Linked DNA regions of Homo sapiens. The protein of the gene in region 3 purifies or fractionates together with the protein of the main gene of each other region. This does not show direct contact. Each region holds a gene or a part of one and is shown on either strand. Other genes may lie near its edges.

Region 1 (4,328 bases), on a different chromosome or scaffold from region 3:
ATTAGAAGATAAACTTGGATAAGATGATAATATTCAATTGAATATTGGTAACACTTTTATATATTTGGCACTTTGAAATAAGAGCAAAATAAATATATTCATTGAGTGTGACAGCAGCAATTGCAAACAGATGTGGGTGTACTGGATTAATGAATCAATTAACAGGAGCAGCATGATAGCTGGTGACATAACTTCCCAAAATCGTGAGCAAATCTTGGTGATAGCACCTTCTATCATTCCTAGAAAATTCCTGTGTAAAAACATGCTATGAACAATAGGACTAGGGTCTAGTCACAGATAACAGTAAGCAAGTTTTTTATTTACATATATGTCTGGTGAGATGTGTAAAAGTTATGGAGGAAGCAGGATTTCCTGCATTCTTGGGCCTTGCCCTTCAAACACTTGACAACTTTAGGAAACTCACTCAAAAGGATCATATTCCTCTCATTCAGGAGCACTGATTATGGCTATATTCTCCCATTGAAGAAAGCCAATCCAATTCTACTGTGTGGGTGGCTATTTTGAAAAAGCTGAGCACTCTATGTTTTTAGTATGAAGGTAAGTTTAGCGGCTGACTAAATACAAATAAATAGCAACAAAATCAAACTATGTAGTTTGCTAAACATTAGGGACATCCTATTAGTGGGCACAATTTGATGATTTAATTATCACTGTGAAGAGTATCATTTTCTACGTGGGATAGTCAGACAGGACTTCACAGATGAAGTGACATCTAAGTTCATTTTTAAAAGATGAGTAAGCATTCCCCAAGTGGAAAAGGAGGTAGATGGAGAGCATTCTAGGCAGAAGGAACAGCATTTGCAAAGCAATGTCATAAAAAAGGGCTTGGCTGGTGACTGAAGGTCAGCATTGGCAGTTGTGGGGAAGTGATGGGAGACGAGGCTGAAGAAGGTTGAGGATTAGATGTGAAAGGTGTTTATGCCATCCTACATCATTTGGATTTTATCCTGAAAGGCAGGTTGTTGGGGGAGAGAGGGTCAATGGAAAATTTTTAAAAAGTGGTGTAATCCACTTTATTTTTGGCAACAATCTCTGAGCTAATGTGAATAGGATCAACTTTAACAGGAGAAAAGATTGATACTTTGGAGACTAGTTAGGAGTCTTTCAAGGAATACAACTAAGATAATGTCTAAGACTTGCTTTAAACAGGAATGGCGAAGAAGGGGAGGAGGATTTGAATTCCTGACGGCAAACACTTGCAATCTAAGGGTCTCCAAGTCTTCCACCTCCCAATACAGGTCATAATAGTAGGTATTACCCTCCTTTTTTGCTTTTCAATGGTGATTGTATTAGTTGAGGTAACTTTAACTTCTAAACTTCCATATTTCAGTGGTTAATAGAGTGGACATTTAATTTTTGCTTATATGAGAGTCCAATGTATGCATTCAGTGCAGTGATTTGGGGACCCAAATCTTGCTCTTGATACTAGAAACATGAAGCTCTCTGCATCCAGCTGACATTGTGGAAGAGAATGAACATAGAGAAGGCACACCCAAGTAGTGACACACCTGGCTTCCATTCACATTCTGTTGATGAGATAGTCACATTGCTCTGTCAGTATGCAAAGAGGGCTGGAGTATGCAACCTCTGGGTGGGAGGCTACTTTCCAGTCATATTTCTGTATCATGGAAAGGGAAGCATAGATTTTGCTAAACAAAAATTCTACTATATTCTGCTCTCTGGCTACAGATAGGAAAACCTCAACTCCAGAAAACAACCTGAATCTCACCTAGTCACTGTATCCATCTCAAAGTCCAGGTTCTATGGCTGATGCTGAGTGCCCGCCACCATTTAGTCTGGATATGGCCCCTCATTGTCTAGAAACTTTTGTACTAAAAGGCAAGTTATCAGCCTCCAATATACAGGCATACCTCATTTTTATGGTGCTTTGTTTTATTGTGCTTAACAGATGCTGCGATTTTCACAAATTGAAGGTTTGTGGCAACCCTGCATCACGCAAGTCTGTCAGTGCCGTTTTTCCAACAGTGTGCTCACTTCTTGTCTCTGTGTCACATTTTGGTAATTCTCCCAATATTTCAAATGTTATTGTTATATAGGTTATGCTGATCCATGATCAGTGATATTTGGGGCACCACGAGTTGTGCCCATATAAGATGGTAAACTTAATGGATGAATGTTGTGTGGGTCCCAACTTCTCCACTGACTGGCTATTCCCACATCTCTCTCCCTCTGCTTGGGCCTCCCTGTTCCCTGAGACACAACAATATTGAAAATAGGCCAATTAATAACCCTACAATGACCTTTAAGTATCCAAGTGAAAGGAAGAATCACATGTCTGTCACTTTAAATCAAAAGCTAGAAAGGATTAAGCTTAGTGAGGAAGGTATATTGAAAGCCAAGATAGGCTGAGAGTTAGTCCTCTTGTTCCAGTTAGCCAAGTTGTGAATGCAAAGGAAAAGTTATTGAAGGAAATTAAAAATGTTACTCCAATGAATACATGAATGATAATAAAGGAAAAAGAGTCTGATTGCTGATATGGAGAAAGTTTTAGTGGTCTGGATAGATCAAATTAGTCACAACATTCCCTTCAACCAAAGCCTAATCCAGAACAAGACCTTAACTCTCTTCAATTCCATGAAGGCTGAGAGAAGTGAGTTTTTCTGTGAGTTCTTGGATATTGGTAAAGGCCCCCTGTTCTGGCAATAGGGCACATTCCTTCTTTAGACCCTGGTTTGCTATCTTAGAAGAAATTCTTTGTTCTTTGTTCTCTGTTCTTCTGTTTCTTCAAACAGAAGAAAAGTTCAAAGCTAGCAGAGGTTGGTTCACAGGTTTAAAAAAAAATAAGCCATCTCCGTGATACAAAAGTGCAAGGTGGGCCGGGCGCAGTGGCTCACGCCTGTAATCCCAACACTTTGGGAGGCCGAGGCAGGTGGATCACAAGGTCAGGAGTTCAAGACCAGCCCGGCCAACTTGATGAAACCCCGTGTCTACTAAAAAAATACAAAAAAATTAGCCAGGCATGGTGGCAGGTGCCTGTAATCCCAGCTACTTGGGAGGCTGAGGCAGAGAATTGCTTGAACCTGAGAGGTGGAGGTTGCAGTGAGCCGAGATTGCACCACTGCACTCCAGCCTGGGTGGCAGAGCAAGACTCTGTGTCAAAAAAAAAAAAAAAGTGCAAGGTGAAGAAACAAGTGTTAAATATGGAAGCTGCAGCAAGTTACCCACAATATTTAGCTAAGATCATTGATGAAGGTGGCTACAATTAACAATAGATTTTTAAAATTTCTTTAGAGACAGGGTCTCACTCTGTCACCCAGTCTAGAGTGTAGTGGCATGATCACAGCTCACTGCAGCCTTGAACTCCTGGGCTCATGGGATCCTCCCCCTTCAGCCTTCCAAGTACTTGGGACTACAGGCATGCACCACAACACCTGGATAATTTTTTTATTGAAAATTTCTTTAATTAAAAAAAGACATGGTCTCACTGTGTTACCCACAACAGATTTTTAATGGAGATTAAACAGGCTTCTGTTGAAAGGTGACGCCATTTAGGCCTTTCCATAGCTAGAGAGAAGAAGTCAATGCCTGGCTTCAAAGCTTCAAAGGACAGGCTTACTCTCTTGGTAGGGGCTAATCTAGCTGGTGACCTTAAGTTGAATTCATTGCTTACTTTCTATTCTGAGAATCCTAGGGTCCTTAAGAATGATGCTAAATTTACTCTGCCTATGCTTTAGAAATGGAACAATGAAGCCTGAATGAACAATGCATTTGTTTACAGCATGGTTTACTGATATTTTAAGCCCACCATTAGAACCTACTGCTTATGAAAAAATTCTTTTCAAAATATTACTGCTTTTTGACAATGTTTCCCATCACCCAAGAGCTCTGAGGGAGATGTACATGGAGATTAATGTTTTCATGCCTGCTAACACAGTATCCACTCTGCAGCTCATGGATCAAGGAATAATTTTGACTTTCAAGCCTATTATTTCATAAATACCTTTTATAAGGCTATACCTGCCATATATAGTGATTCCTCTGATAGATCTGGACAAAGTTAATTAAAAACCTTCTGGAAAGGATTCACCATTCTAGATGCCATTAAGAACGTTTGTGATTGATGGGAGGAAGTCAAAATATCAACATTAACAGGAATTTGGCAGAAGTTGATTCTAACCTCCATGGATGACTTTGAGGGATTTAAAACTTCATTGAAGAAAATAACTGCACATATGGTGGAGAGAAGGAGAATTAGAAGTGGAGTCAGAAGATATACATGAATTGCTGTGACCTCATAATCAAACTTGAGCAGAGAAGGAGTTGCTTCTTATGAACGAGCAAAGAAA
Region 2 (4,328 bases), on a different chromosome or scaffold from region 3:
CACCAATACAGATACATACCCCCTTCAATGCCCGACTCACCCGGGTGGTCAAAGTTGAACTGGCCCTTCAGGGCTTTGGCCTTCTGCTCCGAGGTAAGGACACGGTAGAAGCTATCCTGGCTCAGGATGACCACCTGCTTCTGGCGATAGTCCACCTCATTCTGCCCCAGGAGCTGCACGATCTTAGCACACACGGAAGACTGTGAGGAGAGAAGAGAGCACCCAGGAATAAGAGAAAGGGCACGTGTGGTACAGAGGAAGTCCCGAGAGTAACCAAGCTGATGCACACCTTCCAAGAAGGGGCTCTGGAAGGAAGAATCCAAAGGCAGCTATCGTGCATGATGAGTTAAAGGGCTAAGGGATGCAGCCATAAAAAGAATAAGATCACGTCTCATGTGGGAACATGGATGGAGCTAGAGGACACTATCCTTAGCAAACTAACACAGGAACAGAAAACCAAATACTGCATGTTCCCACTTGTAAGTGGGAGCTAAATGATGAGAATGCATGGACACAGGGAGGGGAACAACACACACTGGGGCCTGCTGGAGGTGGCGGGTGGGAGGAAGCAGAGGATAAGGAAAAATAACTAATGGGTACTAGGCTTAATACCTGGGTGATGAAATAATCTGTATAACAAACCTCTGTGACACAAGTTTACCTATGTAACAAACCCCTGAACTTAAAAGTTAAATTAAAAAAAAAAAAAAAAAAAGGCTAACGGAGAAGAGTCCGCCTTACACGCCTGTGACAGAGAAGTCTTAGGATCCCCAAAGTTCCTTCCTCCCTTCCCTTAACACAGCTTACTACTGTCAGGTACTTGCAGTGATGGTGGGGGAAGGAGGGCAGCACACACCACCTCCTCCTCCAGAAGAGCCTTTCCCAGAGCCACTGATAAAGGTAGGGCTACCTGATCCTGTCTGCTTGTGCCCTGGTATAGACAGACAAAAAAGGCAGCAGAAAGTAGAATGAAGGCATGGTGATGATGTGCTGAGGGGCTACAGGGCCTTGGAATCACAAGGTGACTGCACATCCATGGAATGCCACTCAGCCCCTGCACATCTCTTTATATCAACGGAACCAAAAACCATGGCCAGAGAGCTCAGCTAGTTAGCAAGAAGGCTATGCTCACAGCGTTAATCCTACTTCTGTTGGTTACTTTTGCTCCAGTCCACAGCCATGACTTCACATCTACAGTAAACCAGGTGGCCTTTTCACAAACGTGTGTCACCACAGACAGGGTGACAAGGAACACAAACACCACCAACATCTAAAACAACTTAGGAGTATCCCAAACAAGAGTGGAGAAGCCAACTCCAAATGAACTCAAACCTACATGCTTTGTGTGTTGTTGTTAGTAATACATGTATCCTAAAATTTAAAAAAAAGAAAAACAGATAGTAATACATGTGTCTGCCCCTTTTTCCCTTCAATATACTCTTCGTAAAAGGAACATTATGAAACAAGTGCATTCAATAGAATGAGATAGTGAAGGATTGTATTTATCAAATAACTGATTTCTTTTTTCATTTCATACAAAGACTAATGTAAAAATAAAAATGTCTGTATTACACAAGCTGTAGGAGACATAACCCAAGTCTTCTAATGAAACTGATTGACCTGCCGGGCACGGTGGCCCATGCCTGTAATCCCATAACTTTGGGAGGCTGAAGGGGGTGGATTGCTTGAGGTCAGGAATTCGAGACCAGCCTGGGCAACACAGTGAGACCCCATCTCAAAAAAAAAAAAAAAAAAAAAAAAGAAGAAGAAAGAAACTGGTCAACCGAATAAATAGAAAGGAAAAACAGCATATTTAGGCCAGGCAGGGTAGCTCACACCTATAATCCCACAGTTTAAGAGGCCAAGGTGGGTGGATCACCTGAAGTCAGTTTGAGACTAGCCTGGCCAACATGGTGAAACCCTGCCTCTACTAAAAATACAAAAATTAGCCAGGCATGGTGGCACATGCCTGTAGTCCCAGCTACTCGGGAGGCTGAGCCAGGAAAATCGCCTGAACCCAAGACACAAAGGTTGCAGTCAGCTGAGATCGTGCCATGTACTCCAACCTGGGCAACAGAGTGAGACTGCATCAAAAAAAAAGAAAAAAGAGAAAAGAACAGAACAGAACAGAACAGAAAAACAGCATATTTAGAGGTTTGATGACTCAAATCTTAGAAGTTTTACTATTGAATTTATTTCATCAACGATTTTAACAACAACAACAACAAAAATATGAAATCTTTTAAAGTTACAATTCTTATAAAGTTGTGTTTGATTGCCCTGAGCGTAAGGAAAACTGGCCATTCCTGTTGCACAAGTCAGTGCAAACTAAACAGCTCTGCAAAATACGTCCTGTTATACAAGCTGTGACACACGACTAAGTAAGGATCTTTGGAGGAACAATAATATTTTGACTCAATTATTTGCAAACAATTTATTTCGCCTTCATGATACTTTTGCATATTAACACAGAAAAACATTTAAAACTACTCTGGACTTTGGGACCACAGATCCTCCCATGCCCCAAAATATCACAGAACAGTAAAACTTTCATATGATAAACTAGATTCAAAAGTGAAAATGTTACAAAACCAAGGCTCTCTGGGTGCTACAGATGGATGGGTGGGGGGGGAAATCAAAGGCTCTAAGCAATTATAAACTATAGGTTTTTAAACACCTGTAGGCCCTCAATTTCCTTTTCCTCCCAGGCATCTATCTTAGGACGTTTCTTACGTCCTAAGGTTGTAGGAAGATAAAGTCTGCAGCCTTTATTAGTAGATAGAATTCCTCCTAGAATTCCAAAGAACAAAAACAAAAAAGTGATTCACGAAGCCAAATGTATATTATCTAGTTATTCAAATTGTGATATTTTTATTTATATTTAAAACCCATAAAATGTTTTTAATGTAAATAGCAATCCCATCACCATCAAAAAAGCATATTAAAAAGTTACACTACCTAATTTTGCAGATAAACTACTGTTTCCCTTAACCCAGCACAATCTAGGACAGAACCTGTACAATGGCCAGTAAAATGGGATAATGAACATACAGTAGGTGCAATTCTAGAAAATCAGCGCTCATCCCAACCCTTGATCAATGATACAGTATGACTAATTGTGTTGATCCCCCGCTGCATGTTTCAGTCCTGTGTTTTCAAGGACCTGGCTGGTGACCCTTCCCTTCCACAAACACACTACCACTGCTAACAGTGTAAATGATTACTTATTAGGCAGCAGTCCCTGTGCCAAACACTCCATTATGACCACCTTTAGAAGCCACATGTGCTCTCCTACATGGATGAGGAAACCAAGTTAAGTAATGTGGTTTCATAGAGTCCTGGCTCTTTACCTCAACCTTAGATAGTAAGAAGTCCCAAGGCAGAAGAAGCCCTTTATCAGGAAGGAGATAAATAAAATTGCACAAATAAGCAAAGAAACACCTGCCTCTAGGTTAATCTAGATTGTTCAGGCATTTTCTTCCTCCTGGGCCATATTACAAATGGGCCCTAAAAAATCCGGATAACTGTTGAATCTGGCTGACATGTACATAGGGTTTGGTTATATCATCCTCTCTATTGTTGTGTAGGTTTGAATTTTTACCTGGTAGGGAAGAAGGCAGGGAGGGAAGGAGGAGTCCCACAAAGAGACTCTACTCTGCCCTGAATAAATGCTCTTTCGCTTACTTAACACTCACCTCTGTATCTCTTTCACTATCATCTCTGTGTTCTCCTTTTGCCTAATCCTGCCCCTCTCTTCAAAAGGATGAAATGGAGCTCTGAGGTGTCATCTTGTTCCTTAAGAATAATTCAGCTGGGCACAGTGGCGTGCACCTATAATCCCAGTGACTTGAGAAGCTAGGGCAGGAGGATCACTTGAGCCCAGGAGTTCAAGCCCAGGGTGGGCAACACTGTGAGACCCCACCTCTACACAAATTCAGAAATTATCTAGGCATGGTGTTTGTGCCTGTAGTCCCAGCTACGTGTGGCAGGCTAAGGCAGGAGGACTGCTTGAGCCCAGGAGATCAAGGCTGCAGTGAGCCATGATCATGCCACTGCACTCCAGCCTGGGCAACAGAGCAAGACTCTATCTCTAAAAAAATAAGAGAGAAAAAAAGAAAAGAAAGAGAAATAATCCACCAATAACCAGGGTTTGAGAAGGCAGGCAATCCTGAGCCTATAGAAATCTAAAATGGGAAAGGGTACAACTGTTACAGTGGGCTAAGACTTAACAATTATATTAATAGTCACAAAAAGACAAATACCATAGGATTTCACTATGCAAAGTGAAATGCACTATGCAAAGTCAAATTCATAGAAACGGAAAGTTA
Region 3 (4,328 bases):
TTGTTAATACTTAAACCTTGATACTGTAATAACAAAGAGAAAGATATAGCAGCAAATTAGAGTCTAGGATTTGGAGTCTGAGGACTAGGGTTCAAAGCACTACTAAGCTACTGGCCATGTGACCTTGCGCAAGCAAATTTAACCTCTTTAACTCAGTTTCCTGAAATGCAGCAAGTGATAATACCTATCTAAGAAAGAGTGACTATTAAATGACAACATATAAAGAATATTGAAAATGCTATTTAAATCAACTCTCAAAGGGCTGACTTGATGGGTAGTCATGTGTTTCATGTTCCAACTACTCCAACAGCATCCTTACATCTCAAGAATGAACAAGTGGCCAGGCTTGGTGGCTCACTGTAATCCCAGTACTCTGGGAAGCTGAGCGGGAAGGACTTGGAGCCAGGAGTTTGAGACCAGCCTGGGCAACAAAGCAACACTCTGTCTCTGTGAAAAAAAGAAGAAAGAAGCTGGGCATGGTGGCACATGCCTGTAGTCCCAGCTACTCAGGAGGCTGAGATGGAAGGATTGCTTGAGCCCAGAAGGTTGAGGCTATAGTGAGCTATAATCATGTCACTGCACTCCAGCCCAAGCAACAGAGCAAGGCTCTGTCTCAAGAAAGAAAAGAAAAGAAAAGAAAGAGAGAGAGAGAGAAAGACAGAAAGAAAGAAAATAAAAGAAAAAAAGATGAACAAGTGAGAATTATTTTTTCTTCCATCTCTACCTTCTTCGCATTCTAGAAGCATATAGATATTTAATATTTTTAGATATCACTGTTTAGATATATTCTAAATAGCAGAAGAAAGGGGAAATATCTATCCTATCAACCAGAACAGAGCCTTTGAGGTCTAACTCAAGAAAAAATAGAAAGAAGAAGAAACTCACCCACTAGGGCTATCTCTTTACAGATGCAGAAATACCTGTATCTATTACTCCATTCCACACCAGCGAAAAACAGAAAAATTAAAAATGATGGCTAAGAATTCTCTGTCTGAAACAGGTTCGGGGCCAAGAAAGGATAATATGGCTCACTCCAAGACCCCAGAGGCCTACTTCTGGCTTCTGGTCAAAGTAAGAGCCAAGTCACAGATACTCTAATTAAAAACTGGACTGAAAGTCTTCCAGATTGGATTTTACACAGGACACCAGATAGCAATTGCTTACACATTACTAGCCTAGATTGCATTCTAATTATTCTTCTGTGGCAAAGAAACAACCTATGCTTTCTTTATCACTCCTAAGCCAATGGTTTTGTGCATTAGCATTAAATAATTTTCAAATAATACTAGAGGGAAAGTCCCTTCACAAAATACACACAGGAGTCATGAAAGAAAACATTGGTCAGATTAATTAGCCTGGACAATCTTTCAAATTTGAGCCCCTACTTGGACTTGCTGAAAGGAAAATACTTTATATTTAAGACTCAATACTCTTCCCCTCTTCTCATTCTCATTATTGCACTTGACTAGTCTTTAAAATCAAGGGAAAACAAGACTCTAGTTTTGTAACATTTGGGCTGGGTGCAGTAGCTCGCACCTGTAATCCCAGCACTTTGGGAGGCCGAGGAGGGTGGATCATTTGAGGTCAGGAGTTCAAGACCAGCCTGGCCAACATGGAGAAACTCCATCTCTACTAAAAATACAAAAACTAGCTGGGCATGGTGGTGCACGCCTGTAGTCCCAGCTACTCAGGAGGCTGAGGCAGGAGAAACGCTTGAACCCAGAAGACAGGTTTCAGTGAGCCGAGATAGCACCACTGCACTCTGGCCTGGGCGACGGAGTGAGACTTCGTCTCAAAAAAAAAAAACAACAACAACAAAATTTGGAGTTATATGAATGAAGATGTTTTCCAAGTTCATTATGCACATTTTTATCGCTATACTTAATGTAATTATTAGTTTATTCGTCTGTTCATCTCACCTAAGTAAACTGTGGGCTCCTAAGGCTGGGGCTGTATCCTTTAGCTCTGTATTCCCAGAAGAGGGCCTAGCATAAAATAAGCATTTAACATAAACTTACTAAACGAACATCAAGGAAGAGACTTCCCAAAACATCAGATATGTATGGGGTGAGGATTGGTGTTAAGCCATCTTTCTCACTAGAATGAAAGAAGATGCACTTCTAGGATGCCACAGACTTTTAACAATAATATAATACAAGTATTATTATACCTGAAGTGGATTATGTGTTGTTTTTGTGAACTAATATGAAAACATAAAGCAAATGACATATTAGTTGATAAGTTATATATCTTTTATCTGCAGCTATCTTTGGACTTGAAACTTACTTTCAGTTAAACAGAAAGGAAGAGAAGAATGGAGAAGGCAGGCATTTGTGCTTAGAATTTTCTACTCCTCCTATATATGGTAGCTATGTAAATATTGTTGAGTGACAGAGAAAAAGATGACTGTACTGCAGTTTAAGATACTGGTGTTTTCCTTAGATTCCCAGAACAGGAAACAATTCTGATGAGATCAAGTTGTGGCTTATTGGGACAATGTCCTTTTCTAACATAACAGCTTTCTGGGGGGCTTATCCTAAGTTTGTGACTATTAACTAAGTGCTCTTTTGACCAGTAAAGAGCATTCTTCAGTCTGAAATAACAGCCAGGTAACTCCCATAAGATGATACTAGTGTACCACACCCTGCAGCCACATGTAAGCAATAATATCATTTCAGTACAATGACATCTTATTTGTTAACCAGGAGTGGCCAAAAGTCATGATGTCAAGTGACATTACTTTTCCCTCTCATTCAAAATGCCCTAAAGAAAGAGCAGGTTTAAGAAAATCAATTAATTTTATATGGCATTTATATGAGTTGAGCAAATCCATTAATGTAACTGAAAAGAAGGTTTAAACCTGAGTGACCTCAAGAATTTAAAACTATTGCCGGTGACAATCAACATTTGTATTTGGGGGCAGGGTGTGGTGTCTCAGCGTTCACGTCAATAAAGAACATACGTTTCATTTTCAGCTCCATTGGTCTTGCTTTTCCGCTGTTTCTGCTCATTGGTTGCAGGAGGGGCCTGACCCATGGCAGGAGGTTTCCGCTTTGCTAACATTTTCCGTTGTCTTTCTATCTCTTCCCTCTGTGAATTTATCCTTTCCTGTTGCCTAGAGATATAAAAGACGTTGTACAAAGAAAGAAAGTCAAAAGTTTTACCACAGCTATGGAACACACACAATTTGTCACTTGTGTATCCAATTTCAGAAAAAATAAGCCCCTTTAAGTCAAGTAGAGATTTGATTTTAACTTCAGATTGGAAGGGCCAAATAATTGGTGATAGATGTTTTCTGGGAATGAGTCTGTGCTTTAAGACACTAGTTATTACTATTTTCAGAGTGGACAGGAAGGAACATATCAAATTTCTATTGTGACCTTATTTTCTGACTCAGAAGGAACAATTTTCTGATTCCTTTTTAACAGCTAAGGAAACAATTCTCTGATCTGAACCCATTAAAAGTAAATCGTATTTTAAAAGTTGTAAAAAGTTCCAAGTTCTATTTTATTTTTCTTTGGATGAAAGCTTCTCAGTTTTACGTAAAAAGATACCAAGTTTGTAGGATGCTAAAGAAAGTAAACAAGATTTTCTTTTTAGACCTATCCTTTATTCTAGTCTAAGGGAGCCATTACTACTCTACACGTCAACCCCGCCCACTGATACAGTGACACCTAGATTAAGTTTTTAAAAGAAAAATACATTTGGAGAAAGCACAACGAAGTCTTCCAACTAGTAAGAACTCCTTAGGGAATAGTATACAAAATGAATTAGTATAAAACATATTTTACAACTGCAGTTAATCTAACACCATTACCATTAGAGTATTTCCTAATAAGATGTCACATTTTTCTGTGATTAACTAGTTTACAAATTAGGGACCAATAAAAACTCCATTGTAAAAAAAAAAAACACTTTCTCTCATGTATCCTACCACCTAACAGATATTAAGGTTTACAGACTTGGTATATAAAAACATACAAAATTGGAGATTAACCATCTAACAGGTTAGTCTTTAAGTCACCCACTATAATTGACAATCAAATGATAGCTCCCTTCTCCTTCTTCCTCTACTGTGCTTTTCCACACATTCTCTTTTGTGGAACCAACCTTCATTTTTGTGGAATAATAAATCTTTTTTTTTTTTTTTTTTGAGACAGAGCCTCACTCTGTTGCCCAGGCTGGGATGCAGTGGCACGATCTCAGCTCTCAGCTCACTGCAAGCTCTGTCTCCCAAGTTCAAGTGATTCTCGTGCCTCAGCCTCCCTAATAGCTGGGATTACAGGTGTGCGCCACCATGCCCAGTTAATTTTTGTATTGTTTTAGTA
Region 4 (4,328 bases), on a different chromosome or scaffold from region 3:
TCCATAAAGCCAAGACTAAACAGTTAAGAATTCCTGCATCAGAGACTATGGTTGAAAAGAATAAATAAACTTTTAACACAGGAAGTGTAAGAATAGGACAAATGTAGATACAGCGTCTACTCCATAAACAAGGTAGGAAAGAAGATTCATGGCAACACGTGAAATGATTCACAACAAAATATTTAGAGTGAGTTGGATAAAGTGACAGCAAAGACAGAGTGGAAAAGCTGTAGTGACAGAGTATATTTGGACTTACTAAGGGAACAGAGAGAAAGGTACAAAAAATGATATCATGGTCTTGGCTGTGAGACTCTCTGGGATTCTAAAAATGCTGAGGTCCATACATGTTCTGGTGCAAGTACCAGGAGAAAACAGAGCAGGAACAGAGCAGGTACAGAGAGGAAAAAGGAAAATAATATATAGTTAATATGTTATGCTTTAAAAAATGTCTGAGATCAACTTTTTCAAATTTTGAATATTTAAAATCACTTTAGTTAAATTATCTATCTAATGTGAAAAAAACCTTGTAATCACAAAAGTATACTACAGTACCATAGATTCCAACTGACATAGTTTAAAGGTTAATATCTAGCCAAGTGCTTTTGGAGAGTTATAATGTCAGAGGCGTGTGACCCAGAACAACTACATCTTGAATAGGAGCTGGGTAAAATGAGGCTGAAACCCACTGGGCTGCATTCCCAGATGGTTAAGGATTCTGAGTCACAGGATGAGATAAGAGGTTGGCACAAGATACAGGTCATAAAGACCTTGCTGATGAAACGCATTCCAGTAAAAAAGCCAGCTAAAACTCACCAAAACCGGGAATGACCTCTGGTCGTCTTCACTGCTACAATCCCACCAGTGCCATGACAGTTTACAAATGCCATGACAACATCAGGAAGTTACTCTATATGGTCTAAAAAGGGGAGGCATGAATAATCCACCCCTTGTTTAGCATATCAAGAAATAACCATAAAATGGGTAACCAGCAGCCCTCAGGGCTGCTCTGCTTATGGAGTAGCCATTCTTTTATTCCTTTACTTTCCTAATAAACTTGCTTTCACTTTACTCTATGGGCTCGCCCTGAATTTTTTCTTGCACGAGATCCGAGAACCCTCTCTTGGGGTCTGGATTGGGATCCCCTTCCTTAACAATAGTGTCATTTTTATCCCAAATGTTTCCTCTTCCATTTTAAAATCTTCTTCATTACAACCATTGGCACCTCTTTTTACCTTGAAAGCAAAGCTAGTCTTTACTGTGGCTGTGCTTCTAAGGTTTTTAACAAACCCATGTTGAGTACATCTTTCAACTTTCATTTTTATTCTTTTGTCTCCTTTCTTTTGCTTCTCCAATCACTGGTATGGAGAATTACTTCATTCCAGGGCTCTCTAAAGATATAATGAGCCTTTCTCTCCTTTCTGACTTCCCTCTGCAACATTCCTTTCTTTACTTTCTCCTGACACTATAGGAACAGCCTTTCTATTGACCTTATTAATTATAAAAGGACAAGATTAGCATCATGAGTATAGTTCTCAAATATAGCAGCGTATAAAATACGAATGACATTTTTCTGTGTGCTTACAATGTAAAGCAATTATAATAGGGATGTTATGGTTGGCTTTATAAGTAAATATTCTGATTTATACTACCTGTATCTACAGCTACATAATTGATATGCAAATTTGACTTTGTTTTGCATAAGTTTATCTGGCCATTATATCTATTTATAAATGTAGTTTGTGATTATATACACTTAGAGGTACTTGGTGTACTAGTTGAAATTTTATTTCCACATACCTCTGTGGGAGTCTGTTGAGCCTTTTTTTCAGATTTTGGCAAATCTTTGCTTCCTCTTCTTTTTAAGGATAACTGAAACAAAGCATGAATATATTTAGTTGGATAAACTATAATTTTAATTCAATTTTATGTTTTTAAGTATTCTAGTCTCAAACGACAAAACCAAGACAAATAAAAAGAGTTAGTTCAATAATCATAAAAGGAGGAAAAAAAATCCTAAACCAGATAGATTTAGATATATTTTTACTTTGGACTAGGATACACATCACAGTAGAATGTAGCTGGCAATTATTTAATTTGAGAAATACAGGAAACCTACTGTGAAAATGCAGAAAAACAACAGACAAAATTGATTGTTGACTCAATATGATATATAGTTCAAATGTAAACAAATGCTTGTTAGCATTCCACATCACTGAAGGAAAAAAAGTAAGTTATTATTTCCAATGTTGGGAGTTAGGTTGCTATAAGCTTATGAACACACACTTTCAGTGAATTTATGTAGAATCGGAAGCACTTCATTCTCCCCTCACCACACATCACCCCCTTGCTCCTCCTCGACACGTGCAAAATGATAGGGCATGGTAGGGGTTGTAGTGAAATGGAGAAGGCATGCCCCATCTCAAGAAACAGGTGGACCAGCCACAGCTTCAGCTCATTGTGTGATACAGGAATGTGGGCTTTTACAAGAGAAGCTGGGAATCTGGATTCTTATGTAAAATCTCCCACATTTTACTGGCTGATCCTAATTAAAATTCAAACTAACACTTTGGAAGTCAAAGAATACACAGCTAGTGCCAAACTGTTTCAAGGACAAGCGTAATATGATCTCTGGTGCTCAGTTCCATTTCTCACACCAATATAAGAAGAAGGGTCTCTGTATGTAAACAATAATTATCCGTATGTATGACTGTCTACCATATACTACACATTGAGGGGGAGACTCAAAGTTTGATTAGATACTGCATCTACCATCAGGAAGCTGAAACTTAGCAGGGGAGGAGACAGAGAAGCAAACAATTACAGTGCAAATTGATAAATGCTATGCTTTAGGTTCTGTGAAGCAGGGGTTTTGATTTAGTGTGGCATCACCACCATAAAAATAGTGCTTGCCACATGGCAGGTGGTGAAAAAAATACTTGCTGAACTAATGATATATGAATACCAAATCGAGGTTCTGAGGTCAAAGAGAAGGACAGGGGTATAGACTGACAGTAAAAATAGGGAAGCCTTTTCCAAACAGGAGTCTTCATAAATTCGCAAAGAAATGAAAATTAAATTCTTCACATGTTAATTTCTAACCCATATCCACTGTTAAGTAAAGGCATACGTTCAAGCACAGAAGGCAGGGGAATACTTTGGTGCAACTGCTTTCATTCAGTATGAAACTGAAACTACACAGACAAATGAATAGCCCACGTGGTTATTCATTTCTAGTTCTTTACAGGAAGAAGTTCTTTCTGTTGCTTGTATAATCTTCTTAGAAAGGAAAGCTTGGGGACTGACTCACCATAACCAAAAAGTAATTTAGGAAGTAATCAACAAAACAGTCCCAAGAATACCAAGAATAAAGTGAGCTAAACTAAGAAACCTGGAACATTCTAGGTAGGGGCTGCCTACAAGAAGCGTTGAATTTGTTTCACTAAATACTTATTGAATGCTTGTATTTGAATTCACTCAATTATGTGTTTATTTAGTGACTACCAATGCACTTCATAACATACCTGTGACACAATAATAATGAAACCAATGTGATCTTTGCTCTTTTGGGGGTTCTCAGCTTACTTGGCATGATCTGTTCAGTCTGGAATTCAACACAGTGTTATGAAAGCAATGATAATACAAGAACAATATTAACTGTCATTGAGCCCTAATTCATGTCAACCCCTTCACATACATTATCTCAGCTAATTTTTAAACACTCCTTTTAGCCTCACTTTGCAGGTGCTGAAACTAAAGTTTACAGGGGTAACAGAAGTAGATGAATAAATTATCAAAAGCATCAGTTATCTCTGTGCTCCTCAGAACAGCATCATCAGTGTCACCCAGAAAGCTGTTGGAAAAGCAAATTCTTGAGATTCATCCCAGAACCACTGATTCAGAAACTCTGAGGATGAGGCCCAGTGATCTATGATTTAATAAGCTAAAGTTTGCAAATGTCTAAAGTTACTAGTTGGTAACAATAACTTCAGACCTTGACCCAAGTCTTTCTCATATCTAACTGTTAGCTATTAGATCACTAAGGAGAAAGACTTTATCTAATCTAGGGCTAGAGATGGTGTGGGGAGCTAGGGATAATTTCCAAAATGAGTAGCATCTTATCTAGAATCTGGTGCATGAGTAGTTAGCCAATGGAAGATGAAGAGGAGGAAAAGGGAAAAAAAAAGGCATTCCACATAGAAAAACCATTTCTGGGACAGAAATTCCATATGGGTGTTACAGAGTGAGAGGAGAGGAGTGACATGAGATTTGCTGGTGGCATAAGTCAGATCTTGAAGGACATTGAATAAAGATTGAATTTTATCTTATTC
Region 5 (4,328 bases), on a different chromosome or scaffold from region 3:
CTGGCCCTTCCACCTAGACAAGAGGTTCTTCACTTGAAATCCTCAGAACCCCAAGAGATCTGTGAACGGGAGTCCATGAACTTGAACAGGAAAAAATTTACATCTTTATCTTTACTAACGCTAGCTGATCGTTAACATTTCTCTTCATTATTGATATAGGCAATGAGCCTCAGTATTAGAAATATCTGTGATTTGCCATTATTAGAAGCCACAGATATTTTTACGTCCTATTAAAGTTGTTGCAGATACCCTGAAATATTTCACCTTTGACTACTTTGAAATTACGGTAGTTACTAGATCTACTGCTAAATCTTGTTATTAAATGCATTAACAAGGGAGCACGTATATTCTAAATGTGGTTTTTAAAAACATTTTTAATCCTTTAAAATCCTACAAATTTTATTTTAGGCATGTAAAAACAGGAGGGTTCAGGCTTTGCCAGCCCATGGAAGAGATCCATGGTACGAAAATTGTTATGCACCCCTTCGGGTTGGTAGCACATCTTGCATACCTCTGCCCTACCCCAAGTACCTAGCTCAGTGTCTTGTACCCCAAAGATACTCAATAAGCACTATGTAACTGAGGAAAGCAATGGATTGAATTTGAGTATTAAACACTTACTTTGCAGATCTTTTGGGCATGTGCTCCTGACAGACTGCCTCCAAAAACTGTAAAATCCTAAAAAGAAAATACAAATCAGCAAGTCAAATATAGTGACTGGCTAGAGATGAAAACCCAGTGGGAGGAAGAAATAGAAAATTCACAGATAAAAGTTTTTAGGCCAGGCGTGGTGGCTCATGCCTGTAATCCCAACACTTTGGGAGGCCAAGGCAGGTGGATGGCTTGAGTCCAGGAGTCTGAGACCAGCCTGGGCGACATGGCAGAAGCCCGTATCTGCAAAAAATATAGAAAAAAGTTAGCTGCGCATGGTGGCACATGCCTGGAATCCCAGCTACTCGGGAGGCTGAGGCAGGAGGATTGCTTGAGCCCTGGAGACAGAGGCTTCAGTGAGTTGAGACAGCACCACTGTATTCCAGCCTATGCAACAGAGCAAGACCCTGTCTCAAAACAAAACAAAACAAAACAAAACAAAACAAAAAAAGTTGCCCGGGCATGGTGGCTCGCACCTGTAATCCCAAGACTTTGAGAGGCCAAGGCAGGAGGATCACTTGAGGTCAAGAGTTCCAGACCACCCTGGCCAACATGGTGAAACCCCATCTCTACTAAAATATAAAAATTAGCTGGGCGTGGTGGTGTGTGCCTGTAATCCCAGCTACTCGGGAGGCTGAGGCAGGAGAATCACTTGAATCCAAGAGGCGGAGGCTGCAGTGGGCAGAGATTGCTCCAGTGCACTCCAGCCTGGGCGACAGAGCGAGACTCTGTATTTAAAAAAATACATACATATAGTTTTTAAAGCATTTTCAGAAGTTTAAAAAATTAGAAAAGAAGTCTGATTTATAGATTATTCCATAGAATAAAATATCTTAAAGGAAGTTCATGAATTGTCAAGAGCAAAAGAGCTAGTCTTTGCTCTACAAAAATGATTTGAAAGGAAAAAAAAGAAATGATTTGCAGTTCTGAAGGAAAACCTATCACACAGAATTAACTCTAATATCAGATTCTATGGATATCAAACAGTCAAGCACTTCTGTTTTTAAGAAATATTTACTGTTTTATTTTACTTATCATTTTGAGACCAAGTCTTGCTCTGTCACCCAGGCTGGAGTGCAGTGGCGTAATCTTGGCTCACTGTATCCTCCGCCTCCCAGGTTCAAGTGATTCTCCTGCCTCAGCCTCCCGAGTAGCTGGGATTACAGGCACGTGCCACCAGGCCCAGCTAATTTTTGTATTTTTATTAGAGACAGTTTTGCCATGTTGGCTAGGCCAGTTTCAAACTCCTGGCCTCAAGTGATCTACCCACCTCGGCCTCCCAAAGTGCTGAGATGACAAGCGGGAGCCACTGTGCCCAGCCTATTATTTGCTGTTTTAAAAAGAAAGGTTAAAAAACAAGAATCAGAGCTCTCACTGCTTCTTCTGCTTATGGATCTTCATTATGTTCAGATGTAAAGGGCTTATTGTGGGCATAACCTCTCCTAAAACCCCCTCAAAAAGACAGTTAGGAATTAAGAACAGAATCAGCTGTGAGAATAAGAACAAGGAGACAATAGCATAGGAAGGATTAAACAAATTTGGGGGGAACTGAAAGCACAAGAAAATACCTGATTTAGAGGGAGAGAATGGAAGCTTACACACCTGCAGTGGGGGTAATCAAGGAGAAGACAACCCAGGAACCATGGAAAGTGGAGGTGAGAAGGAGGCTGAAAACAGAGACTAACAGAAGTCTCTGTTAGAAGCAGTCAGACCCCACAGGGCCTCTCCTTCACCTTGAGAGGACAGAGAATGTTTGTTCTCTAAAGGAAATTAACCAGAAGGGTTCTAAACTCACAATCGCTAGCCTAAAAGAGGAAAAGGTGAGGCTGAAAACATGCAAGATTAGGAGCCTATACACTGAATGAGTGCTGGCCCCTTTTTTTCTCTCCCCCTCAGAATACACCAACAGCCAATTATCAGGCAAGGGACTGAGGAGGCTCCCCAGAAGAACAGAAGCTCCCCAGAAAAAGCACCTAAGATATTAACATCTTGGAGATCACTATTAAAAAACACTAGCTCATCACTCCCTACCCTCAGTATCCTTCAGGGCCTGTCTCAATTGCCCCATTGTTCCTAAAGCTTTCCTCAACCCTGGATGTGATTTTCCCTTGTCTTGGGTCTACAGCATTTGCCTGGAACCTCTCACTCCATGTGCTCTGTAGTTACATCCGTTCTGTGCCATTCTGCCTATAAAATGATTCGCTTCTTCAGGGTGGGAACTCTTGTCTCAGTCATCTCCACCTTCTCCTCACTCCCACCCTACCACATGAGCATAAGAGGTGGTCAAAAGTATCAATTCAGTGAATTCTTCCATCTGCTTAATAGTGGTGAGTGAACATCATGTCCAGAAAACATCTTTGTTCTATCTCTCTTTTCAATGGTTCCTTCTGTACAAGTTTTTCTCAGCTCTCATAAATTGCACAAAACAAATGTGATTCCTTCTATTTCGGCATTTGGTAGACCAATTTATAACAGTTTTAAAACATTTCAAAGGTAATTTAATTGGTAAATGCATACTAACTACGACAGATTTTAAATTAACCAAGTATAACTATTTTATTATTTTTTTGTTTGAGATGGAGTCTCACTCTGCCACCCAGGCTCGAGTGCAGTGGCGCAAACTCGGCTCACTGCAACCTCCGCCTCCCAGGTTCAAGCGATTCTCCTGCCTCAGCCTCCCAAGTAGCTGGGATTACAGGCACCCACAACACCCAGCTAATTTTTGTGTTTTTAGTAGAGATGGAGTTTCGCCATGTTGGCCAGCTGGTCTCAAACTCCTGACCTCAGGTGATCCACCCATCTCAGCCTCCCAAAGTACTGGGACTACAGGCATGAGCCACCACGCCTAGCCAATTTTAATATCAAACTTTAGGTCTGTAAAAAGACCTAAGCATTTTAAATTATATACATATTTCCACCTCTGGAGAGAAAAAAGTCAAATCCAAAATAGTACACAACATATTCTGTGTTAGTTTTCTATTACCGCTATAACAAATTAATATAAATTCAGTGCCTTGAAACAACACAAATGTATTATCTTATAGTTCTATAATTTAGAAGCGCTACACAGGATTGACTGGGCTAAAATTAAGGTTGGCAGGACTGTGCTCCCTTCTGGAGGCTCCAGGGGAAAATGTGTTTTCTTGCCTTTACCAGCTCCTAGAGACCATGGGCACTCCTTTGCTGATGGTCCCCTTCTCCCATCTTCAAAGCCAGGTACTGCAGATCATGTCCTTCTCATATCACATCCTTATAAGCTCCTCTTCTACCTCCCTCTTCCACTTTTAAGGACCCTGTGATTATATTGGGCCCACCTGGATAAATCAGGCTACTCTCCCTATTGCAAGGCCAGCTGATTAACAACCTTCATTCCCTTTTGCGTGTAAAATAACATATTGATAGCTTTGGCTATGTGTGTGAACAAACTGTATCTGTCTTGATGCACCCTGATAAAATTTTCTGAACATATTCATGAAAGCCCAAAGCTCAGGGGGACTCTGGTTCTGAGAGTCAAGTCCCCTTTGCGAGGCTGCACCCACTGCACTCTCTCTAGTCCACATACACTGCCCAGGACACAGATGCCCTACAGGCACACACCCAACCCAGCTAAGAGGAATCTCATTCACTTGGAATAAATTCCTGGTTCTTGGGATACCTTTGTACAAGGCTAGTGCCCT
Region 6 (4,328 bases), on a different chromosome or scaffold from region 3:
TACCAAAGTGCTGGGATTACAGGCGTGAGCCACTGCGACCTGGCAATTTCCTGATTTTGATGGTTGTATTTCAGTTTTGCAGGAGAATATCCTTGTTTGTAGGAAATGCACACTGAAGTATTTGTTGATGATGGGGCATCATGGTAAGTAACTTAGTCTCAAATGTCCAGGAAAAAAAGTGGGTTTTTTTTTTTTGCAACTTTTCTCTATGTTTAAGTTTGTTTCAGAATAAAAATATAGACTGGGCAAGGTGGCTCACACCTGTAATCCCAGCACTTTGGGAAGCCAAGGCGAGCAGATCACCTAGGGTCAGGAGTTCGAAACCAGCCTGGCCAACATGGCAAAACCCTGTCTCTACTAAAAATACAAAAATTAGCTAGGCGCAGTGGTAGGTGCCTGTAATCCCAGCTACTTGGGAGGCTGAGATGGGAGAATCGCTTAAACCTGGGAGGTGGAGGTTGCAGTGAGCCGAGATCACACCATTGCACTCTAGCCTGGGTGACAGAACGAGACTCTGTCTCAAAAAAAAAAAAAAAAAAAAAGTATATATATACACACACACACACACACACACACTTTGTAAAATACTTGATTTAATTTTGAAGTATGAGGGTAGAGATGGAATGTTGGGTTATCAGCAGCCACAGGGAACAAGGAGGCTGGTGAATTGATAGTCCACGATCCAGCCTGCCTATGGTGGGGGTGAGGGTGGTACTATCCTTTAGCCAGTTGCATTAGGCTTGACTAGTTTTTATAAGATTTCCAATTGCCATCAATTTATATGGAGTTTATACTCTAAAGCAATAACACTGATTTTGAGAAAGAAAAGGTAATTTCTGCTTAATACAATAAATGAGAAATAATTGAAGAAATAATTTCTTTGGAAAAGAATGCTTCTTTATTGATGGTTATATTTATCAGCAAGGATCATGACTCAGTAGCCAGTTGAAGGAATCAGAACACTTTGGGTACATGCTGCTAAAAGCCCGTCAGCTCGTCATCCTTGTTTTTGTCAACCTGGTATCCAGTAAGTACCAAGTCCTCATTTTGTCCGGGAAGACTTTTGAATACTTTCAAGTGCATATATTTATTATCACCTGCTCGTACCTGAAAAATATTAAAGAAAGAGAAAGCAAAAGGAGATTCATTCAAATGGGTCTACATCAAGTGAGAGAGCCACAGGTCTACAAAGACTTCTGTCCAAAAAGCTGCTGAGGAACAGCATTGCTAGACCTAGTCCACCATTCTTAGACTCTTTGTATTCATAAATCCACCACCTTATTTTAGGAGAAAAAGAGCAGACTAGGCTGGGTGCCGTGGCTCCCACCTGTAATCCTAGCACTTTGGGAGGCTGAGGCAGGGGGATCACGAGGTCAGGAGTTCAAGACAAGCCTGGCCAGCATGGTGAAATCCCGTCTCTACTAAAAATACAAAAAATTAGCCGGGCATGGTGGTGCATGCCTGTAATCCCAGCTACTCTAGAGGCTGAGGCAGGAGAATCACTTGAACCCAGGAGGAGAAGGTTGCAGTGAGCCGAGATCATGCCACTGTACTCCAGCCTGGGTGATAGAGCAAGAGTTTGTCTTAAAAAAAAAAAAAAATTGTAGACTAATGGCATGGCAAGAGGCATAGGTCCTAGGTTTATTTTGTTATTTTTTTTAGTATAATCTGGGCACAAAGGACAGCATTTTATTTTCAAAGATGCATGGAGCAAGAAAACAAGTGATAGCCTATATTTTTGGTGATACTGTTTTCTGACTCTCAACTTGGGACACTTTGTTTGCCATACAGTCTGATAAGGGAGAAGAAAATCAGAATTGCCCTAGAAAATTTGGGATGCAGGGTTCCCATACCTATATCAGAACCTACTTTATAAACACCCACTGGTAGGATTGAGCAGAGCCCAGGGGGCGGACACCCTCCCTTCTAAAGTGAAGGGGCCAGCCGGGCACTGTGGCTCACGCCTATAATCCCAGCACTTTGGGAGGCCAAGGTGGGTGGATCACCTGAGGTCAGGAGTTTGAGACAAACCTGGCCAACATGGTGAAATCTGGTCTCTACTAAAAATACAAAATTAGCTGGGTGTGGTGGTGCACATCTGTAATCCCAGCTACTTGGGAGGCTGAAGCAGGAGAATCGCTTGAATCCGGGAGGTGGAGGTCGCAGAGAGCCGAGATTGTGCCACTGCACTCCAGCCTGAGTGACAGAGTGAAACTCCGTCTCAAAAAAGAAAAGAAAAAAAAAAGCTAAGGGGTTTTACTAGGAAGTCATTGGTAGGAAGGTTGAAGCAGAAGCAGTAGTTTGGACATGAATCTGAGACCTGGAAAATTATGGTAAGAATTTTTACTTTGGTTCTTGCTGGAGACAATAAATGCTTTGTCTTATACAAATATTTATTGTGCTTCTGATGTCACTTCCTATCCTAATTTTAACAAATGCCATATATCAAATGTTTACTGTGAGCCAGACACTATGATGAACATTTTATATAAATGATTATATTAACCTATATTATAGGCCTGAAGAAAAGTGGAGCAATGAAATTTTTACAGACGTGGAAGCAGAGTAGGAGAGATTAAGTGATTTTCCATAAATCTCTCAGCTAGTCAGTGGCACAGCCAATATTCAAACCCAGATCTGTTAGCCTCTAGCATCTACATTCTTTTCACTCTACAATGTAACATTTTTGGGGGGTACTGATCGGGGAATGAGGCCTGGCTCACAGTGCAGTGGTGCGATCGCAGCTCACTGCAACCTCAAACTCCTCGGCTCAAGTGATCCTCCTACCTCAGCTTCCCAAGTAGCTAGGACTACTGGTGTGCATCACCATGCCTAGGTAATTAAAACATTTTCTTTGTAGAGGCAGGGTCTTGCTATGTTGCCCAGAATGATCTCAAACTCCTGGCTTCAAGCTATCCTCCCACCTTGGCCTCCCAAAGTGTTCGGATTACAGGTATAAGCCACCACACCAGGCCAGTGTAACCTTGTAAAAGCTCTTATTTTGTGCTTTATATTAGAGGCAGCACAGCCAGTAGTTAAGCTCAGTCTATCTGGGTTCAAATCCTGACTCTGCTCTTGTAGTTGTGTGATCTTTTTAGTTTCTTCACCACCCTGGAACTCAGTTTTTTCGTTGGTAACCCAAGAGAAGTGATTGTACTTATCTCATAGATTTGTTGTGAGGATTAAATGAGATAAGCCCTGTTCTTAGAATAGTGCATAGTGAATTATAAGTGCTCAATAAATTTCCAGCTTATTTATTCCTCACAACACGCTGCGAAGTAGATTATTACCCTCATTGTGCAGATAAGGGAATGAAGGCTCAGAGAGGAGGAGGAGCTTCCCATAGAACAAATTGAACAAGGGTTCAAACCCAGGACACTCTGACACCTAAGCTTGTGGTCCTTCCATTCTACCACCTACCTCTTGATAGGTACTTGAAATACATAGAGAAGGTCACATCACTGGCAAGACCTTAAATCTAGAGTGCCTCAGAGCAAAGGGATCAACAGCCAGACTACCAGGAAGTAAAAGGGAACTGGGATCGGTGGCTGAGATCCAGTAGGAAAAGTTTGATAGCAGAAGGAAGAAAAGATGAGAGAGAGAGAGGAGACTGATTAAGAGAGGGCAAAAGGGTGGTCAAGGGAACAAATTTTCAAGCAGAAATTTTCAAGATAGTTATCTGATGAACTGTTGAAGAAACATGTGAGCTGGTAATATGTGAAATTTATGCATTTGAATTAATCATAAATTATTAAATATGTTAATGTTGATGGAATGTTTCCTATCTTTGCACATAATCATTTTTAACTGGAAAACTTTCTTTTCCAGCCATGAAGAAAGCAGATTGAGAATGGAGGAAATGGTGCCATTGTTTTCTGAGGATACAGCAGGGTCCTCTTTCACATGTGTCTCCCCGGGACCTGGTCGTTACTAGGAGCTCACATTTGGCAGAACAGGGCTGATCTGTGTACATAGCTCTGTACTGAAACTTTCTTATGCTGAGCTGACTAGCTCCACTTACTTCACTTACTTTTTTTTTTTTTTTTGCTGAAAAAATCTTTTAAAATGTTTATATTTTAATAGAAATATTTGTTAAAGAGAAATAAGCCACACTGTGCCCTGGTCAAATAGTGAAGTAAAGATTAAGTAAATATACTTGAATATTTGTTTTTATTTTTAAAATCAGCATTATCATCTTCTTAATATATAAGGACAAACATGGCTCTCAAATATTCATGGTTGACTTGTTCAACTGGTTTCCTCTTGATAACTTCAATTAGAACTCGATCAATGCATTGTGTAATTTTTTGACAGAGCTATAAAATTAA
Region 7 (3,396 bases), on a different chromosome or scaffold from region 3:
ATGTTGGCTGGAGTGAAGAGATTGGGGTTCAGATCACAAGTCTGCCACTTATGAGTCATGGGATCTTGGGCAAATTACTTTCTCTATGCTTCATTTTCTCTTCTGAAAAATGAATTAATATGAATAAAAATGAACCTTATTTTAAAAACGGCAGGCAATTCATCTTTTAAAGTTACCTGATGTCAATACTATAAGTGAACAGGTATTATTTGCCTAATATACTCCCTATTCTTTGAGGAGTGACCCTTCTTCCGATTTCACCTCTTCATGAACTGCCAGATCTGGCCTTGGCCACTAGGCACTGGCAACAGCATACACACTCTGTCATCTTATCCAAGTCCTTGAAATGAGACCAATCTTTGTCCTGAGACTTAGTTACTTATAGGTGCTTAAAACCCAAAGCGTCCCAATTGATACAATTATGTATGTGTCTAATTCCAGTTTACTTTGTACCCACTACCAGTAGAGAAAATAAGTATCAAAGAACTAAGAATCAAACTCATCATTTTTAAAATCTACTGATTTTGATAACTGACTTGAAAGAAAAGAACTTGCAATTAGAGGTCATAGTGAAGATTTCCAGGGTCAAAGTGATTTCTGAGGTTTTAGATGTAAAAATATCTCCTATTTATTTGCTATTTCAGAGTTGACAACAAGATTTTTATTTGATCCACATATTTAAAAGGTGTGCAAAGATTGCTACTTTACAAAGGTCACAGAAGCAGAGGAGTCTCAGAGTCCCACATCCAATTACTAATTTGTTCTTCCCCATGACTAAATGTAGCAAATGATGAAGAAACTGGTGCTAGATTTCAAGGGATACCAGAATAGGAAGTTATTTGTTCTGAATCTTCAGTTGGTTTTCCTTTTCTCTTAAATGTTACCACTTTCCTGCAAATTTCCATCCTTAATATGTTAGACTGTTCATATAGATACATTGTGTTTACAACAAGGAAAAAATGCCACCATGTGCTCAGAACTTTTTTGACAGGTATTTTGAGAAGAGTTGTGGAACATTCTGGTAATTTGTAGAGATCTGTTGGCATCTCTGCTTCACAAACTGGAAAAAATCATTTGTAAGTCTTGCTAATTACTTTTCTTGGAGAAGAAAAAAAATGCTACAGTTGCAAACAAATGTATAGTTTTCAAAAAGAAGCAACTTTTTTGCTCCCCAGTTTATTCTTAGTTTCCAGCCCACGCCTTGCGATAGCGATAGGCATAGTGATGGCCTCAATTCTTTCTCTCTTGCATCCATACCTTTTGCTGTGATAGCAGTGATGGCCTCAGTTCTTTCCCTCTCTTGCATCCGTACCTTTTGCTGTGTGACTTTGCAGCTCCTCTCATTAAAGAGGCAGAGCCCCCTCTCCCACCCATAGGAGCAGGTTTTGAGAGTAACAGAATGAAGTGAAAATGACACTGTGCCAGTTCTAAGACCAGCCCTCAAAGGTTCATGTGTTTCTGCTTGCTTTCACTGTATTTGAAATGTTGCTGTGAGAAAGACATCTCTGAAACAGCTGAATGGTCCTAAGAAAAGGATGAGAGATGCAGGGAGCAGAGCTCCCAACTGAGGCCAGCCTAGATCACCTAAGAGCCAGGCCCCCAGTTTACTCTGATGTGTAAGCAATAAATGCTTACCCCAGCAATACCACCAAGGTTTGTGGTTGGTTTATATACAGCATTAATGTGGCAATAGGTGCAATACACCCTGTTAAACAAACCATACACATATGACTCTAACCCTAATCATAAATTGATTCAGTCTGTTCAGTTCCACAACGCTGTTTCCTCCAGAATCTCACAGATGACTTACTAAATCCAACACAAATACACCTCAGACTTTCTGTCTAGCTCCCAACCAGTTAAAAGCAATTCTAAATATTTTTTTTCTTAGTCGTAGTGCAAAAGTATATTCTCTCCCTTTCTCTATAGTTTTCTCTCATTTTGTCTTCAGACCTAGAAGCATGAGAGCCCAGCTGTCAAAGTCATCTAGACCCCCTTCAGAAGGTCATTAAATTTGTCTATTTCACAGGATTGCAAGATAAAATACAGAATGCCCAGTTAAATTTGAACTTCGGATAAACAACAAATTTTTTTTTAGTATAAGCATATCCCATACAATATTTGGGATATACTTATATTTTTATATTGTTTATCTGACGTTCAAGCTAACTAGGCATCCTGTATTTTTCTTAGCTAAATCTGGCAACTGTGCTATTTCATTGAAAACCTGAAAGTGTACAAAGAAGGAAGAAGCAGAATCTGCCATATGAGTAATAGAAGTGAGCAGGCCCAGGACTCCCTAAGTCAAGAAACCAAGAGGCGTCATTACGGAAAAGAGTAACTCACCCTGTGTGCTCCTTGGTAGTTCTCCCTCAGCGATGCCCCCATGTTATGAATGGGGAAAAGTTCACTGAAGGGTTCATAGTGAAGAAACTTTTTGGATGATTTCTGTTGGTGGGTTTTGGATACCTTCAAGGGATCAGAAAATAATATACTTAGGAAATTTTGGTAATGTCATCATTACTCTCTACATTATTATTATGACGGTTACAATTGTTAAATCTAGGTGGTGGGTATGTGGGTTATATTGTACATGATTTTTAACTTGTCTGCATGTTTGAAATTATAATAAAGTCAATAAATAAATTATTGAGACACTCCTGTTACAGTGACCGATTGCACTCTATTCATATGGATAAAGACATTTAATTTGTGGCCATTTGTTCTCCTTCCACCCATTAAGAATGTTAGTCAAGTCAGGATAGATGATTGGAGGCAAGTAGGAATTTGGCAAAAGCATCTCACTATTAGCAAAGTTAATTAAGGGTGTTATGGTTCAGTTTTAACTAAAAAACACCATACACTGCAAGATCTGATGGAGCACAGTATTATTATTATTATTATTATTATTTATATTTATATTTTAAGTTCTGGGATACATGTGCAGAACATGCAGGTTTGTTACATCAGTATACATGTGCCATGGTAGTTTGCTGCACCCATCAACCCATCGTCTACATTAGATATTTCTCTTAATGATATCCCTCCTCTAGCCCCCGCCCCCACCCCCCGAGAGGCCCAGTGTATGATGTTCCCTTCCCTGTGTCCATGTGTTCTCATTGTTCAGCTCCCATTTATGCGGTGTTTGGTTTTCTGTTCTTGGAACACGGCATTATTTTTAAGAGGGACGAGAGAAATAGGGAAAATGAAATTTAAATACCAGTTCTCTACCATTTACTCTGCTACATGTCCCTTGAGGTAGATTTTTATCACATTTTACTCATGAAGTTCAGAGCACCCTAGGGTGGTGCTGGGGTTGAAGACATATTTGATACCATGGCCCCATTTTTTTCTGCTATACTCTGCTGCCTTATTCCAATTGTAACTGTGTACTTG

What was found.
Region 1: the proteins of TLK2 (region 3) and KCNB2 purify together in Homo sapiens (affinity purification with mass spectrometry; one large-scale study listed by BioGRID and IntAct). This does not show direct contact.
Region 2: the proteins of TLK2 (region 3) and UCK2 purify together in Homo sapiens (affinity purification with mass spectrometry; one large-scale study listed by BioGRID and IntAct). This does not show direct contact.
Region 4: the proteins of TLK2 (region 3) and MTCL3 purify together in Homo sapiens (affinity purification with mass spectrometry; one large-scale study listed by BioGRID and IntAct). This does not show direct contact.
Region 5: the proteins of TLK2 (region 3) and PCCB purify together in Homo sapiens (affinity purification with mass spectrometry; one large-scale study listed by BioGRID and IntAct). This does not show direct contact.
Region 6: the proteins of TLK2 (region 3) and CSTA purify together in Homo sapiens (affinity purification with mass spectrometry, with the first as the bait; one large-scale study listed by BioGRID). This does not show direct contact.
Region 7: the proteins of TLK2 (region 3) and COBLL1 purify together in Homo sapiens (affinity purification with mass spectrometry, with the first as the bait; one large-scale study listed by BioGRID). This does not show direct contact.

What each region holds. Positions count from the first base shown.
Region 1 is NC_000008.11:72,543,378-72,547,705, forward strand, and holds part of KCNB2 (potassium voltage-gated channel subfamily B member 2), read left to right. Parts: intron 1-4,328. UniProt on the Homo sapiens protein: Voltage-gated potassium channel that mediates transmembrane potassium transport in excitable membranes, primarily in the brain and smooth muscle cells.
Region 2 is NC_000001.11:165,886,076-165,890,403, reverse strand, and holds part of UCK2 (uridine-cytidine kinase 2), read right to left. Parts: intron 201-4,328; coding exon 41-200; intron 1-40. UniProt on the Homo sapiens protein: Phosphorylates uridine and cytidine to uridine monophosphate and cytidine monophosphate. Does not phosphorylate deoxyribonucleosides or purine ribonucleosides. Can use ATP or GTP as a phosphate donor.
Region 3 is NC_000017.11:62,572,002-62,576,329, reverse strand, and holds part of TLK2 (serine/threonine-protein kinase tousled-like 2), read right to left. Parts: intron 3,116-4,328; coding exon 2,963-3,115; intron 1,986-2,962; coding exon of another isoform or gene 1,920-1,985; intron 1-1,919. UniProt on the Homo sapiens protein: Serine/threonine-protein kinase involved in the process of chromatin assembly and probably also DNA replication, transcription, repair, and chromosome segregation. Phosphorylates the chromatin assembly factors ASF1A and ASF1B.
Region 4 is NC_000006.12:127,481,116-127,485,443, forward strand, and holds part of MTCL3 (microtubule cross-linking factor 3 precursor), read right to left. Parts: intron 1,870-4,328; coding exon 1,798-1,869; intron 1-1,797.
Region 5 is NC_000003.12:136,256,829-136,261,156, reverse strand, and holds part of PCCB (propionyl-CoA carboxylase beta chain, mitochondrial isoform 1 precursor), read right to left. Parts: intron 1,982-4,328; coding exon of another isoform or gene 1,922-1,981; intron 679-1,921; coding exon 622-678; intron 1-621. UniProt on the Homo sapiens protein: This is one of the 2 subunits of the biotin-dependent propionyl-CoA carboxylase (PCC), a mitochondrial enzyme involved in the catabolism of odd chain fatty acids, branched-chain amino acids isoleucine, threonine, methionine, and valine and other metabolites.
Region 6 is NC_000003.12:122,338,218-122,342,545, reverse strand, and holds the end of CSTA (cystatin-A), read right to left. Parts: intron 1,108-4,328; coding exon 979-1,107; 3' UTR 577-978; downstream 1-576. UniProt on the Homo sapiens protein: This is an intracellular thiol proteinase inhibitor. Has an important role in desmosome-mediated cell-cell adhesion in the lower levels of the epidermis.
Region 7 is NC_000002.12:164,679,455-164,682,850, reverse strand, and holds the end of COBLL1 (cordon-bleu protein-like 1), read left to right. Parts: 3' UTR 1-2,663; downstream 2,664-3,396.